Regions from separate parts of the Homo sapiens genome. Here region 1 is linked to region 2. Evidence: fine-mapped expression QTL. A gene starts in region 2. The other region holds a variant in brackets. All regions are shown on one strand. Distances are from middle to middle.

Region 1 (8,340 bases), 270 kb after region 2:
TTATTTTCTATTTATTCTATGAATCATTGAGAGGTAGGGTATTGAAACTTATGACTATAATTGTGGGTTTGCTTATTTCTCCTTACAATTCTATTACTTTTTGTTTCATGTATATTGAAGCTTTGTTATTAGGTGTATAAACATTTAGTATTGTTATATCCTCAATAAATTGATTCCTTTATCATTATAAAATAATCCTCTTAATCTCTATTAATATTATTTTATCTGAAATCTCCTTTGTCTAATTCCAATATAGCCACTCCAGCTCTCTTTTGATTAATATTAACATGAAATATCTTTTTCCATTCTTTTACTTCTTGCCTATTTGCATCTTTATATTAAAAGTAGTTTTTTAATAGGCAGCATATAGTTGTGTTATGCTTTTTACATGTAATCTGACAATCTTTTTTAAGTAGGGGTATTTAGGCAATTTACATTTAATGTGATTATGTTTTCTCTCTTTTTTGTTGGTTTATTAACTATAACTCTTGTTTTGTTGTTATTTTAGTGATTGCTTAGTGTTTATAGTGTACATCTTTAATTATAGTTAACTTTCAAATTATATTATTCTATTTCATGAATAGTATAAGGAGTCTACAATAGTACTGTGATTAATAGAATAAGGCCCCTCCTCACCTCAGACATCCACATTTTAATTACTGAAATCTGTGCGTATGTTACCTTACATGGCAAAAGGGACTTCGAAGACAGGATTAAGGATTTTGAGATGGTGCGATAATCTTGGATTATCCAGGTGGGCCTAATGTAATCACAAGGGTTCTTATAAAAGGAAGGCAGGAGGAGTTCAGAGTCAGAGTAGATGTGTTGATGGATTACAGGCATGCGCCACCATGCCTGGCTAATTTTTGTATTTTTAGTCGAGATGGGGTTTCTCCATGTCGGTCAGGCGGTTCTCGAACTCCCGACCTCAGGTGATGTGCCTGCCTTGGCCTCCCAAATTGTTGGGATTACAGGTATGAGCCACCGCGCCCGGCCATCATTGTATTTTTAAAAATAGTTGATCATCTTTTAATGAGTTTAAAATAATAAGAAAAACATCTCGTATAATTATTCATGTACTAGACCATTTCTGATGCTGTTCATTCCTTTGTGTAGATCCAAATTTAGGTCTGGTATTACTTTCCTTCTGCCTAAAGTACTTCTTTTTAACATTTCTTAGAGTGTGGGTTTGTTGATGATGAATTATTTCAGCTTTTGTATATCTGAAACTATCTTTAGTTTGCCTTAGTTCTTGAAAGATATTTTAGCTGGGTATAGAATTCTAGTTTGACAAGTTTTTTTTTCCCTTTCAGTATTGTAGGGATGTTGAACCACTCTTTTCTTGCTTGCATTGCAAAGATAAGAATGTTCCTGTATATGTTAACATGTTTCCTTTCTCTGGTTGCTTTTAATATTTTCTCTTTATCACTATTTTTGAGCAGTTTTGATTATGACATACTTTGCTGTAGTTTTCTTAATGTTTATTGTACCTAGCTTTATTGAGCTGCTTAGACCTATGGGTTTATAGTTTTCATCAAATTTCAGAAATTTCCAGCCCTTATTTCTTTTTAAATTCTTTCTTTCTTCCTTCCTTCCTTCCCTTTCTTCCCTCTCTCCCTTCCTCCCTTTCTCTGTCTCTCTCTGTCTCTCTTTCATCTCTCTCTCTCTCTCTCTCTTTTGTGGAGACAGGATCTTACTATGTTGCCCAGGCTGCTCTCAAACTCCCAGGCTTATGGCATTCTTCCACCTTGGCCTCCCAAAGTGTTGGGATTAAAGGCATGAGCCGCTGCACCCAGCCTCCAGCCATTATTTCTACAAATATTTTTTCTTCCCTTTCTTCAATTACACATATATTAGGCTGTTTGAAGTTGCCCCACAGCTCATTTATGCCATTATTTTTTTTTCTTTTCTGTTTTTTCCTGTGGGTTTCATTTTGGAATAGTTTCTATTGCTGTGTTTTCAAGTTTATCTGTCTTTTCTTCTGCAATATCTAATCTGACATTAACTCCCTCTGATATGATTTTCATCTTGCACATTATAGTTTTCATTTCTAGAAGTTAAATTTGAGTCTTAAAAATACATATGTATCTCCCAAATTTTTACTAAACTTGAACACAGAGCATACAAATAATGTTTTAATGTTCTTGCTACTAATTCTAATATCAGTTTCAGTTCTGGGTTGGTTTCAATTGATTGATTTTTCTCCTTATTATAAGTCATATTTTCCAGCTTCTTTACATGCCTTGTAATTTTGGGTTGGGTGCCTCACATTGTGAATTTTACCTTGCTGAATGCTGTAGATATATTTTATTCCTATAAATGTTCTTGAACATTGTTTTGGGACATATTTAAGTTATTTGAAAACAGTTTGATGTTTTCTTGTCTTGCTTTTAAGATTTGTTAGGTGGAGCCAGAGCAGTACTTAGTCTAGGGCTAAGTATTCCCTATTAGTGAGGCAAGATCTTTCTACTGTACTCTACCCAGTACCCCGGGAATCATACAGTTTTCCATATTGGCTGGTGGAAACAGACTATTTCCGCCCCCTTGTGCACACCGAGCGCTGTTACCTCTAATCTTTTTGGGTAGTTCTTTTCCCAGTCCTATCTAGTTTCCTCACAGGCATAAATGGATCAACGCTAAGCTGAATACTTGAAAGGGACCCTCTGGATCTCCACATTCTCTGTGCAGCTCTCTTTTGTTTACCCTTCAGTTCCTTGGGTTCTAGTCACTGTGGTCTCCTCAGACTCTTGGCATTTTCTCTTCAACTCAAACGTGGGGAATCTGCAGGTCTCCACCTGTATTCCTCCTCCTTGTGTTCCAGTCTGGAGACTCTCTTAAGGCTGTAAGCTGGGGCAATCACAGGGCTTATCTTGCTTGTTTTCAGTGTCTCAGGGATCACTGTCCTTCAATGCCTGATGTTCATTGTCTTCAAAACTGTTGTTGATTTTTTTCTTCCTCTCTTTTGGTTTTAGGTGGGAGCTAAATCTGGTCTTTATACTCCATTTTAGTCAGAAACGGATGTATGCTTTTTATTTTAATTTAATTTTACTTTATAATTGTGTAAAATATTTGCATTGTTCCAATGGTATATTATGAGAAAGTCTAACTGTATCTTCACTTTTACCCTGTTTCTTTTTCGTATAGGCAATTTCCTCTTCGTCCTTCTCTTTTTCTTGCTACTATTATTTTATTTTTGCTCTCTCTCTAGGTAATTTTTTTTAGCTTTTGGCTTATACCCCCATAAAAAAAAACATGCAAACACACCACACACATATATTTGTCTGAATATGTGTGTATCCCCATTTGTTAAATAAATGATAGTATGTTATATACATAACAGCCATCCTTTAGTATCCACTGGGAATTGGTTCTAGGACCCCAGAAGATACCAAAATCTGTGGGTACTCAAGTCCCTTATATAAAATGGCATAGTATTTGCATATAACCTACACACATTCTCCCATATTCCTTAAATCATTTCTAGATTGCTTATAATACCTAATACAATGTAAATGCTATGTAAATAGGTATTATATTGTATTTTTTTAAATTGTATTTTAAATTGTTGTATTGTCATTTTCTATTTGGAAACTTTGATCCTGTTACCCGGTTCTGAGCAGGGGTAGTCACTAACTCTTTCCTACAACTCTTATTCCTCTTTAGTTCCTCGGCTTCTTGGTTAGCTGCCCTTCAAACCCAAGCAGATATATGGGATGCAGGATTGGGATGTAGCTGTTTGCTGTTGGAACAGAGGGTGGACAAATTGGTATAACTTATAGGGAGATAGATTTTGATTCAAAATAAGGTCATGGTGAATCTCTTTATCACAGTAAGAGTTGGCCGACAGTGGGACACTGTGTCCTGTGACATAATAAATTCTCCATTGAAAGGAAGTTTCAGGGGCAGCTGTGGGTCCACCTCTCTGAGATCCTGCAGAGAGAGAGCCTTTCCCTGGGGGGCTTGAACTGCCACAGTTCAGCTCTGGATGGGGAAAGATGAAACTACTTCAGTTTTTTTCTTCCCCATTTCAATTGCTGTTCCTATCCCATATCATTCTTCTCCCCTCCCTCCCTCCCTCCCTCTCTCCCTTCCTCCCTTCCTTCCTTCCTTCCTTCCTCTCCCCCTTTCTCCCCCTCTGTCCCTCTCTCCCTCTCTCCCCTTCTTCCCCTCTTCTCTCCTCTCTCCCTCTCTCCCCTTCTCCCCCTCTTTCCCTCTCTCCCCCTCTTTCCCTCTCCCTTTCTCTTCTCTTCTCTTCTTTCTTTCTTTCTTTCTTTCTTTTTTTCTTTTCTTTCTTTCTTTCCTTCTTTCCTTCCTT[T/CCTTT]CTTTCTTTCTTTCTTTCTTTCTTTCTTTCTTTCTTTCTTTCTTTCTGTCTTTCTTTCTTTCACAGAATCTTGCTCTGTCATATAGGCTGGAGTGCAGTGGCATGACCTCAGCTCCTATAACCTCCACCTCCTGGGTTCAAGCAATTCTCCTGCCTCAGCCTCCCGAATAGCTGAGATTACAGGCATGCGCCACCATACTGGCTAATTTTTGTATTTTTGATAGAGATGAGGTTTCACCATGTTGGCCAGGCTGGTCTTGAACTCCTGGGCTTCAGTGATCTGCTGGCCTTGGCTTCCCAAAGTACTGGGATTACAGACGTCAGCCACTGTACCCGGCCACTCTTCCCTCTCTTTTCTCTCCCATTTCATCTTCTAAATTCTGAATAGCTCATGCTTTGTCTGTGAGAGATGCCCAGAACCCTCAGGATCCACCTGCTGAACTTGTGCAATGTGCATAACCAGCTGTATTTGTCTGGAGTCTGCTAACCATAAAGGCATCAAGCCTTTCAATGCCAGGTATTTCCATGGAGCCAGTTCTCCCAGCAAGTGTGTGAGTTTTTGATTGTGTGTGTGTGTCTTTGTGCATCACATTTGTGCTTACACATGGGCAGGAATGTTGTAGCTCGAGTTGCAGCTCAAAGTAACAGAAAAGTAGTTTGCTCAGTGGGGTATGTGAAGTGAGGGGTGGCAGTGGCCTTGGTTACCAGGGAGGACTGGTTTCCCCTCTTGTCTTTGGCCACTTGTTTCCCCTCCTTCATGTCCCCTCCCCAGCCCTAGGCTCACTCCCCAAGGTTAATTTCCCTGACAGCAGCTGTGACTCCATCCTCCTTCCCCACCTCCATCTACCACACATGCACATGCACGCACACATATGCACACACACACATGCTTTGAGTTATCTGCCTCCTGTTCTGAGATAAACAACATAAGTCTCATGGGGCCCTGCTCTTCCCTCTGTAAGTGGAACTCCAGGGCTGAACGTGTTTTTCCTATAAAGGAACCCTGGTGCCTGTCAGCCTGTTGAGGAGGGCAAGGAAGGGGCCAGGGAGCTCCAAGAGAGCTCTTGCGACCATTTGCTTGTTGTGATGAGGTGGATTCAAAGCAGACATCAAAAAGAAGCCTGTTTCCACCTTCATGGCTAAAGAACCAAGTGGCAGCATGGTGGATGGGGCAGGGGGTCTGTCATGTTGCATGAGTGTGGAGTCCAAGACTAGGTCAGCTAACTCATGACAATTAACAACTGACATTTGTCATCTTTGTGGATATAGAGAGCTTTCTCTTGAATATAAGCAAATCCCCATAACAGCCCCAGGAGGTAGGTATTAATGTTATCAATGCCCTTATCTTACAGGTGAGGCAATAGGCTCAGAAAGGTGTTAGGATGCTTCCCAGGACTCACGTGCTCTTCCTTTGCACTGCAGAGTGTCTCCAATCCAGCAGAGAAAGAATGGAACAAAAACAGCCCCTTCTTCTGGAGATTCAAACTAGTTGCTAAAATGAATTCTCCCAGAAGAATGGGTCTAAAGCTCCAAGCAGAGTGGCCTGGGGCTTCTCTGGTACCGCTGACCACCAAGCACAGTGACTGCTGTCTCAGGGAGGGTGTAGGACCTGGACAAGTGTGGACACTTTTGCACTCTTGCCACGTAGACCTTTGGAGGGTGCTGGTGGGGGCCAGCTCACTCTTACTTACCTGTGTTTGATTAGGTTGGAAGCACCGTAAAGCAGCCACTGGGGAACGAAGGAAACCTAAGGCCCAGAGATGGCCATGGTGGGAGAGGGGGTGCAGGGGGCTCTGGCCTCAGGCCTGGGCCTCCACTTCTGGAGTCCCTCTTGGATGCTTTGGATCTGGGTGGATGAGTCCCCTGGAGCCAGGAACAGCAGGGCCAATGGTCATTCAATTCTGACATTTCTGAGTCCAGGTCAGTTCTAGTTTCTAAGAACCAAAGGGGTGGGGTGGTCAGAACCTCCAACTTGTTCACAATCTTGTGACCTGTGGAGCAGCTGTGTGATTAAACATAAAGAGACCTGAGTATTTTGGTTCCTTTAATGCTGGGATAATTGACTTTGTTTTGGCCCCATCCCAATAAATGGGTAGAGTTGACTGGTAAAAATGAAAATGAATGAATGAGTATATAGCAATGAAAGTTACATAGATTTTCTCTGCAAAGGTGAAAAATGAAGCCAGTTTCCCTTCTTAACTTTTAAGGGCCCTAAAATGGAAGACGGCAGATGGGAATCAGGTGCTGATGTTTTCTGAATCCATGGTCCTAGGTGTGCACAGTGACACTTTTGTGGTAGGCCGCCTGCGTCCAACAGCTGCCATGTGCCACATTTACCTGCAGAAGACAGAGTTGTGATTTTAAAGGAAGCTGCAATATATTCATTCATTAATTCAATGAGTATTTAGTTTGGTTCTGCTCTGTGTCAGGCACAGTTCTGATTCTGGGGCTTCTGACAAGAACAAGACAAAAAAGTCCCTGTCTTCATTAGGCTTTTCTTCCTATTAGGGATTTGTTGGCTTGCTGGTTTATTATGGGGGGTATCAGACACTCTCTTCAGGACTACAAATCACCTAGCCAGTCTGAAAATTACCTAGCCAGTCTCAAATACCTGCCTCCTCACCCCTCAGCCTCTTCCCCGCCCCATTTCCCTGGGAATAGTCTGTGACCTGGCATGGAGAAGTCCCTGTTCCTCTAAGGCCCGTGGCTGCCACCAGAGCCACACACAATTGTTGTCGGGTGAGCAGGAAGGCTCCTCATGGTGCTTGGCATGACAGTGATGCTGTTGGTGTCAAAGGCCACACACACAGGGTGGCACGTAAGCCCAGCCCCTGGCCTCCTGCCTATTTTTTTTTTTTTGTAAGGCCCAGGCATGTAGGCGGGGATATAGAGGTGTGCGGGCTCTGCAGGTCATGTGGCCTGGTCACCAGAGTGGGTTTATGTTCTCATGGGGGCTACACAAGCCTCCATTTGCCTACAGTGAGCTGCCAGCAGCTGGGAGTGGGTGGGAGACGCCTTTGAGTAGATCTAGTGTTTTTGGTTCTGTCTCTTTGCGATGCTTCTCAACCCAGGCTGTCCATACAGTAGGCCAACTGACTGCTGCTCCGTTTTGAAGGGAACCTGCTTAACCTGGATCAGGATAGAGGGGCAGTGGATAGAGATCCACTGCTTTGGAGACACTGCAAAGGTCCTTCTTGTCTGAAGGTCCAGTTGGTGATCTCTCCAGGCAGGAGAGCAGAATTGGTTTTGGTGAAGGCAATGGCTCTCGTTGGCATGGGCTTGCTGAACAGCATGGTGGAGCTGACAGAGCCAGGGTCCTGGGGTCAGATGACCTAGATTCAGCCTTGCCACCACTAGCAATCAGCTTTGTGATGTTGACAAGTCACTTCTCTCTGGGCTTCAGCTTCCTCTCCTTGTGAATGACGGGGTTAGTCAGGGTAGTTTCCAAGGCCCCTTCCAGCCTGGAGCCTTTAATCTTTATATTGTCTCTGTCCACAGGCCTTGCCCCGGGCCAGCTGTATACATACCCTGCCCGCTGCTGGCGCAAGAAGAGACGATTGCACCCACCTGAAGATCCAAAACTGCGGCTGCTGGAGATAAAACCTGGTCAGTGCCCTCTGGAGCTTGGCTGGGTCTGTGATGGGAAAGGTGGGAGGACTGGGCTGGGCCCAGGACAAGGTTGGTTTGCTCCTTTGTCCATAGAGCTAAGTTTTCTGGGAGAGGGAACATGCCCACATCATGCTTAAGGGTGCACCTCTGTGCCTGCTGAGTAGAAACATGACCACGTGTCCACCTGAGCTTTTCTCCCCTCTGGGTGTCTCATGCCTTCCCTTTGCCACCCCAGGGAGGAAAGAAAGGCTGCACCCCAGCCCAGGTGCAGGATGAATTTCCCAACAGAACTGAAGGATGTGCAGCTCTTTCGGGTCATGTGATACTTTTCTTGTGGCCTCAAGTAAAGAAATCTTGGCCCAGTTTGTATGTTTCTAAGGAGAAGATAATACACCGTGGACCCTCTACCCCTTACC
Region 2 (8,340 bases):
CAGGCGTGAGCCACTGTGCCCGGCCCAGAAATTTTTTAATGTTTATTCTTTTTTTTTGAGACGGAGTCTCACTCTGTCACCCAGGCTGTAGGGCAGTGGTGCGATCTTGGCTCACTGCAACCTCTGCCTTCTGGGTTCAAGCAATTCCCTGTCTCAGCCTCCTGAGTAGCTGGGATTACAGGCGCCCGCCACCAGGCCCGGCTAATTTTTGTATTTTTAGTAGAGCCAGGGTTTTGCCATCTTGGCCAGGCTGGTCTTGAACTCTTGACCTCGTGATCCACCTGCCTCGGCCTCCCAAAGTGCTGGGATTACGGGCATGAGCCACTGCGCCCGGCCCTAGAAGTTGTTTTTAGAAAACAATTTCTCAGCCATGTTTCATAATCCAACCATTGGCTCTCTGCCCAATATTGAAAATATAATTTTCAGCAATTTAATCCTCATATATGGGTCATTATTATGTAGATTTGATTTTGCTAGTGGTTTACTTATGTCCCTGGAATCATAAGGTAAAAAGTATTGGACTTCAAGTCAGCAGATACAGTCTTGTCCCAGATTTGTCAATAATTTGTTGTGTAACCCTGGCAAGTCACTTAATCTTAGTTTTCTCTTCTGGGTTAACAATTATCAAGATAGAATCATAGTATGTTGGAATTGGCAGGGACTTCATTAATTACAATTTCTATTTTGTGGAGAGGTTGAGTGACTTACCCAACCACCTGTATAGTCAGGACGTTTTCTTTCTTTCTTTCTTTTTTTTTTTTTTGAGATGGAGTCTCTCACTCTGTCACCCAGGCTGGAGTGCAATGGCACGATCTCGGCTCACTGCAACCTCCAACCCCCGGGTTCAAGTGATTCTCTTGTCTCAGTCCCTCTAGTTGCTGGGATTACAGGTGCACGCCGCCATGCCTGGCTAATTTTTTGTGTGTGTGTGTGTTTTAGTAGAGATGGGTTTTTACCATGTTGCCCAGGCTGGTCTTGAACTCCTGAGCTCAGGCAATCCACCCGCCTCAGCCTCCCAAAGTGTTAGGATTACAGGCGTGAGCCACTGCGCCCAGCCTCTTTTTTTTTTTTTTTTTTTTTTGAGATGGAGTTTTGCTCCATTGCCCAGGCTGGAGTGCAGTGGCACAATCTTGGCTCACTGGAACCTCTGCCTCTGGGGTTCAAGTGATTTTCCTGCCTCAGCCTCCAGAGTAGCTGGGATTACAGGCACATGCCACCATTCCCAGCTAATTTTTTGTATTTTTAGTATAGTCATGGTTTCACCATGTTGGCCAGGACCTCAAGTGCTCTGCGTGCCTTGGCCTCCCAAAGTGTTGAGATTACACACAGGAACAACCACACCAGGCCTTCAGGAGCTTTTCTAGAGCAAGCAGTCAATCTTTGGCAACACAGACTCAGGCTTTCTTTCAATGTTGTTTCAAGAAACAAACAAAAAGTGAAAGCACTAAACAAATATAAGGCCATAAAAAAAGAAAAAAAAGCCTGATAAATGTTAACCATTAGCCTGCACTGTAGCCTGAAAACTTATCTGAAAATTTAGCCCATCTAACGCAAAGAAAATTTCTTTCTTTTTTTTTTTTTCTTGTTTGAGACAGAGTCTTGCACTGTTGCCCAGGCTGGAGTGCAATGGTGCGATCTTGGCTCACTGCAACCTCTGCCTCCCGGGTTCATGTGATTCTCCTGCCTCAGCCTCCCGAGTAGCTGGGATTACAGGTGCACACCACCACACCCAGCTAATGTTTTGTATTTTTAGTAGAGATGAGGTTTCACTATGTTGGCCATGCTGGTCTTGAACTCCTGAGCTCATGATCCGCTCTCCTTGGCCTCCCAAAGTGCTGGGATTACAGGCATGAGCCACCGTGCCTGGCCCTCAAAGATAATTTCAAATTGAGAAGTTCTGAAAGTATAATAGCTTTTTTTTTTTTTTTTTTTTGAGACAGAGTTTCCCTCTTGTTGCCCAGGCTGGAGTGCCATGGCGTGATCTCGGCTTACTGCAACCTCTGCCTCCCAGGTTCAAGCAATTCTCCTGCCTCAGCCTACCGAGTAGCTGGGATTACAGGCATGCATCATCACGCCCGGCTAATTTTGTATCTGTTAGTAGAGATGGAGTTTCTCCATGTTGGTCAGGCTGGTCTCGAACGCCCGACCTCAGGTGATCCGTCCACCTCGACCTCCCAAAGTGCTGGGATTACAGGCATGCGCTACCGCGCCCAGCCTGAGAAGTTCTGAAACTATAGAAGGAAAGATCAGAAAAATAATAGGTAGGAAAAAAAATTCATGGTTGGCTTGGAGAATACCCTTGAAGGGTGTTAAGTAAAAATGATAGGAGGCCTTTGTTTTGGACTAAACTCCTGCACCAGGCCCCAATAGACCTGGCTAAAATAAAAATGGAGTCACCCATGCTAAAGTTTCACCTCACCAAATCCAAACTAAGTTGTTACCAAACCCAAGCTAAGTTGTTATCTGACCTTCAGAGAAATCAGGAAAGAGGGATAAGGACAGCCAGTTTCCCAAACAGGCTTGTTTTAATGTTGCATGATAATGAAGCTCCCTCTGTTGTAATCCTTACACAAAAGAAGTAGCCTGAAGTAACTGATGTCAACTAATCAGTTATTTTTCTATTGTTCTGTCTCTCTGTCCTCACCTTCCAAGGAAAGTAGCTTAGAAGTGACCAATATGTCAAGGTCCCATGAGAAGACTGAAAAAAAGAGAAGAAAGAGGAAAGAAAAGAATGACAAGAAAGAGAAAGAAAGAAACCAATATGCTCTTTGTTCTTTGCTTTTGCTTCCTCAAGCTTTTCTCTGTCTACAAAGCCAACCTCTCCTGCTCAGCTCATCAGAACATTCACTCCACTTTCTGGAATGAAGTGTTGCCTGATCCTAGAGTCGCAATAAAGCCAACTGAGATCTTAAAACTAAATTCGTTGTAATTTTGTCCTTTGCCAAGGGGGGAAAAACAACAAAAACTTCCCAAGAGTACCTATATCCTCTTATCACTTTTTCTGGTCTTTTCCTTAGTTTTTGCGAAGTGAAATTGGGAAGGTGGAGACTGTCTGTGCTCACACGTTTCTGAGGGAATGGTGTGCAAGAGGTTACTTGAATCCAAATTAATTGACTCACCATTTCCCACTTATACTAGACATTATTACATCAGTTCTCTAATGTAGCACCATGCCTTCCCCAGTTACAACCCAAAAGAACGTGCTGAAACCTGCGGACACCACACTCAATGCAAAAACTCCAAGTCCCGAAATCCTCCGTAGCCTGTCCCCACCGCCTCCTCGCAAGAGCAGCCTCTTCAGTACTGGGAGTTGTAGTCATTCAGAGTCTTCCTTTCCGGGATGAGGGGCGAGAGCGCGCCTCGAGGAGCTACATCTCCCAGGAGGCAGTGCGCACTACGCCCTTGCTGGCGCCGGGATCCTCCCTCTCTCGCTCCTCCCTTTCTGGGCTGCACCGCTCACGCCTTCCTGTTAGTCCGAGCTGGGAGAAGTTCACTCCGATCAGCTGATCCCAACTGACAACAGGAGAGGAGGAAGCCCGGGAGGCAACGAAGGAGGAGGGTGGCGGAGATGGAGATGAGGATGGATCTGCCGGTGTCCTGAGGAATAGCCTCTGCCCCCACTGGCGCCCTGCGGCCCCCCGACGCCGCCTTGCTGCGGCCGAGCTTCTCAGTGGTGGGATCCCCGGGCCGCGGCGGGCAGGGCAGGGCGGGGAGGGCACGGCCCAGCGCGGGGCGAGTGATCGTCCTGGGGCTCAGGCTGCCCTCGGGAGGAAGGGGGGGCGGGTGCGGCGGGGGTGGGGGTGGGGTGGTATAAACAATGGATTCGGCTCCGGGTTTTGCCGGCGTGGGGGGGATTTTGGGGGACCTTCTTTGTTCTTAGGCTCCGCTCCTGCCCCTCGGGTTGTGGCGGTGGTGTCCGGGTGGAAGGAAGGGTGAGGAACCCCCGGCTGGGGAGAGGTGTCGAGGTGGGGGCCCGAGTGGGCAAAATGTTTGGTTGACATGGCCGGGCGTGAGGTGTACTTTTGAAGGTTGATTTTATATTTTTCTCAATTGTGACAAGTTTGATTTTTGTTTCTGTTTTGGGAGCTGGCTGGGCATGTCTGAGGTTAGATTGTAGTAAATAAGATCCCCTAGTCACTCCCTTCGCCTTCCTTGTTTATCTGAAAATAAGGTTGATAGATTGATTACTGTAGGGGAGGAGTGACTATCAGAAAGGCAGGGCTTTACACCTTGTCGGGGCCTTGGAATGCGGGTCAAGGCTAGGGGGAATTAGGAATATAATTGTCAAAGTGACAAAAGCCCCTTTCTTGCCCCAGTTATCTTTTTTCGTATTTTGAAGTTATTTTTAAGTTAGTTTTTAAGTGACAAAGAGAAAAATTATTTGTTTTGATTCACTGCAGGCCTGGCTTTGCCATGGGTCAAAGTAGAGGAATTGTCTCCTGTTGCTCCTTTTTTTTTTTTTTTTCAGTTAGTGAAAGAAGGGACAGAAGAATTACAGTGTAAAAAAATTGTTTTTAAAGATGAAATTGTTACTATTGTTTCTAAGTTTTGAGTCTTTAATATACATCTAGCTAGAGTTGAAACAATCCAGTTACAAGGCTAACCAGGTCGGCCCAGGTATTTGATAGATCTAAAGTTTATTATTACATTTTCATTAGCTTTGTGAAGGCCTCTCCACTCCTCCCAATTGTGGGATGCATGTGGGGGTGCAGAGGGCTGTCCTTCCAAGGACTACTCACTTAGTGATTTAGATTCTGAATTTAATATCTGAATGAACAGAAAATTCCAGTCTGGGAAATAGAGCAGCAAAGTCTCTTAAATGCCTTGGGCCTAGAGGTGGCGTTTGTTGTCAAGAGGAGGAGCTTTAGCCACAATTTTGAGATTTTTTTTTTTTTTTTTTTTTTTGAGGGAGTCTTGCCCTGTCTTCCAGGCTGGAGTGCAGTGGCAAGATCTTGGCTCACTGCAACCTCCGCCTCCTGGGTTCAAGTGATTCTCCTGCCTCAGCCTCCCTAGTAGCTTGGATTACACGTGCCTGCCACCATGCCCAGCTAATATTTGTATTTTTAGTAGAGATGGGATTTCACCATGTTGGACAGGGTAGTCTCGAACTCCTGACCTCAAGTGATCTGCCCACCTCGGCCTCCCAAAGTGATGGAATTACAGGTGTGAGCCACTGCGCCTGGCTATACAACAAGCCAGTGTAAGTGTTAAGATAGAAAATGAGATTTCTGGCCAGGTGCGGTGACTCACGCCTGTAATCCCAGCACTTTGGGAGGCCAAGGCGGGCAGATCACCTGGGGTCAAGAGTTCAAGACCAGCCTGGCCAACATGGTGAAACCCCGTCTCTACTAAAAATACAAAAATTAGCTGGGCATTGTGGCTAGCGCGTGTAATCCCAGCTCCTTGGGAGGCTGAGGCAGGAGAATCGCTTGAACCCGGGAGGCGGAGGTTGCAGTGAGCCGAGACTGTCCCATTGCACTCCAGCTTGGGCAGCAAGAGCAAAACTCTGTCTCAAAAAAAAAAAAAAGAAAAAAAAGAGGAATGAGATTTCTCTCAGCAGTTCTGGGCTAATATTTAATTTAGTCAAAAAAAATTTTTTTAAAGGTGCACTTCTGTTTTTTAGATGAGTGAAATCCTTTTCCTTCCTCTATTCTAGGTATCCCCTGAAATACTGACTTCAGGTCGAATTATATTGAAAAGCTCCTGACCACTTTCTTTCATTACCAAAACTTTGTAGCTGATGTCCAACCGATGAACCCACCACCGTGAACCCATCAGACCTCTCTCAGATAGCCATAAAAGACCCTTCCAAGTCAATTTTGACCACATCTTTGCTTGCACTTTATGGAGGATGAAACCATCAAACCAAATCAACGTTGCTGCTAATACAAGAGTCTTAGAGGCAGCAAATTAAAAATTTGAACATTTGTTTGTGAAGAACTATAACAGGACATGAAAGGTGTTCTTTTTTAAAGTGTTCAGAACCCTGTGGAAGTTTCGTGCAGTCTTCAGACTCAAATCTTCGTCTTCACCCCCGGGGCAAGCTCAGTGACTATTATATGGTGGGTGTGTTTCCTTACCAGCGTGAGTATGAGTGCCCAGACTTCCCCAGCAGAGAAGGGCCTGAATCCGGGGCTGATGTGCCAGGAAAGTTACGCTTGCAGCGGGACTGATGAAGCTATCTTTGAGTGTGATGAGTGCTGCAGTCTGCAGTGTCTCCGCTGCGAGGAGGAGCTCCATCGGCAGGAGCGCCTGAGAAACCATGAGCGGATAAGACTCAAACCTGGCCATGTCCCTTACTGTGACCTCTGCAAGGGTCTCAGTGGGCATTTACCAGGTGTTAGGCAGAGGGCAATAGTGAGGTGCCAGACCTGCAAAATTAACTTGTGCCTGGAGTGCCAGAAGAGGACTCATTCTGGGGGTAACAAAAGGAGACACCCTGTTACTGTGTACAATGTCAGTAATCTCCAGGAGTCACTGGAGGCAGAAGAGATGGATGAGGAGACCAAGAGGAAGAAGATGACTGAGAAGGTTGTGAGTTTCCTCCTAGTAGACGAAAATGAAGAAATTCAGGTAAGCACACGGGTATAGTGGGATTCATGTGTAGTGGAGCAGATCTGTTGTTGGAAGCCAGCTCTCAAAAAACGATGTCCAAGAAGAGATCACATTTTAATCATTAAAAGGCAAGACCTCTGGAGGCTTTAGTTGCATGGAGTCAGATTTAGTTACCAGCTGCATGACCTCTGGCCGAATTACTTTACTTTTCTGAGCCTTAGCTTTTTCATCTATAAAATGGGGGACAGCCTACTTCATCGAGTTGTGAGGTTGAAATGAGACAGTGTTTGTAGAGCCTGTCGCATAATAAATGGTCAGTGTATACGGTAGCTGTTGTTAGTATTAATTGTAGCATTATTATTAGAACAAACTGATTTAAAACATTTCAGAATGAGAGCACCCTGGCAAGCTGTGAGTAAATGTTAGTGATGCGGGACTGCACCTATCCAGGGAAACACACACTAACAGTGGGTCCCATGGGAGTGCTAGCTAATAAGGCATAAACCTGTTATCTTGATTTAAAAAGTGGCTTTTAATAAGGACAATATTCTTTCCAGATGGTCTCTTCATATATATATTATATATATAAAACATATATAAAATATATATATAATATATATAAAACATAAAATATATATTATATATAAAACACATAAAATATATATATTATATATAAAACATATATAATATATATTATATATAAAACATATATAATATATATTATATATAAAACATATATAATATATATTATATATAAAACATATATAATATATATTATATATAAAACATATAATATATATATTACATATAAAACATATAAAATATATATTATATATAAAACATATATAAAATATATATATATATATATATATATATATTTTTTGAGATGGAATTTCGCTCTGTCACCCAGGCTGGAGTGCAGTGGTGCCATCTTGGCTCACTGCAACCTCTACTTCCTGGATTCAAGCGATTTTCCTGCCTCAGCCTCCCAAGTAGCTGGGATTACAGACATGTGCCATCACGCCTGGTAATTTAGAATTTTTAGTAGAGACGGGGGTTCACCATGTTGGCCAGGTTGATCTTGAACTCCTGACCTCAAGTGATCCACCCGCCTTGGCCTCCCAGAGTGCTGGGATTACAGGCGCGATTGGCTGGTCTCTTCATATTTTCTTGTATAGGTTTCTGATCAGTAAAAGCCAGTGAGGGGCATCTGGGAGTACAGAATGACTAGGGGATATTTGGCTTGAGTCTGAGTTGGGGAGATGGTAGTGTTGTGACAGCTAGGTGAGATTGGGGAAGGGGTAGTATAATGTTTATACTTTTGAATGAAGGTAGTGTAATGTCTATACTTTTCTTTTGAGTGGGCTTTCAAGTGAAGTTTGCTTGAATTCACATACTTGTTTACCAATCACTATATAGCCAAGGGTAAGTGATAAAAATCCTTTCCATTCCTAATCTTTTTGAGTCCTATCAACAATCCTGTGAAGTACCAGTGAAACTGAGGCACAGCTTAAATGATTTTTATCACAGTCTGGCACATAGTATCCAGTACCAGTTTGTTGTAGTCAGTATCACTGGAGTATCTGTGGTCCACTGACTCAGTACTTTTGATGGTGGTGACTCCTTAGGTTTCCAGTTTGGAGGGGAGTACCTATGTAAGTTACCATTTGAGAGGCTGCCTAATTACCCACCTAATATTTTTCTTCTGTACTTTTTTCCTTCTTGGATAAAGCTGATGGAAATGAGTTACATCATGATTCCTGTATACTTCCATTGTCATGTTAA

Direction of the effects. Positions count from the first base shown, and alleles are read on the strand shown. Sizes are in standard deviations (SD) of each study's normalised expression.
As copies of T replace CCTTT in region 1, the expression in CD4 T cells of the gene that starts at base 3,493 in region 2 goes up (large effect, 0.89 SD a copy in CEDAR).

Evidence for each region.
Region 1: its variant is fine-mapped to the expression of ZFYVE1 in CD4 T cells (CEDAR, PIP 0.95).

What each region holds. Positions count from the first base shown.
Region 1 is chr14:72,752,845-72,761,184 of GRCh38, reverse strand. It overlaps DPF3 (double PHD fingers 3), which reads left to right. Exons shown (of 11, transcript NM_001280542.3): 3 at 7,814-7,921. Among named protein-coding and RNA genes, the nearest start is that of DPF3, 140 kb to the left of the region's middle. The variant T/CCTTT (reference allele first, on the strand shown) is at 4,316.
Region 2 is chr14:73,022,259-73,030,598 of GRCh38, reverse strand. ZFYVE1 (zinc finger FYVE-type containing 1) reads left to right here and starts at 3,493. Exons shown (of 12, transcript NM_021260.4): 1 at 3,493-3,673; 2 at 5,657-6,573. The coding sequence starts at 6,091. RefSeq lists an enhancer at 3,151-3,350 and a silencer at 3,581-3,790.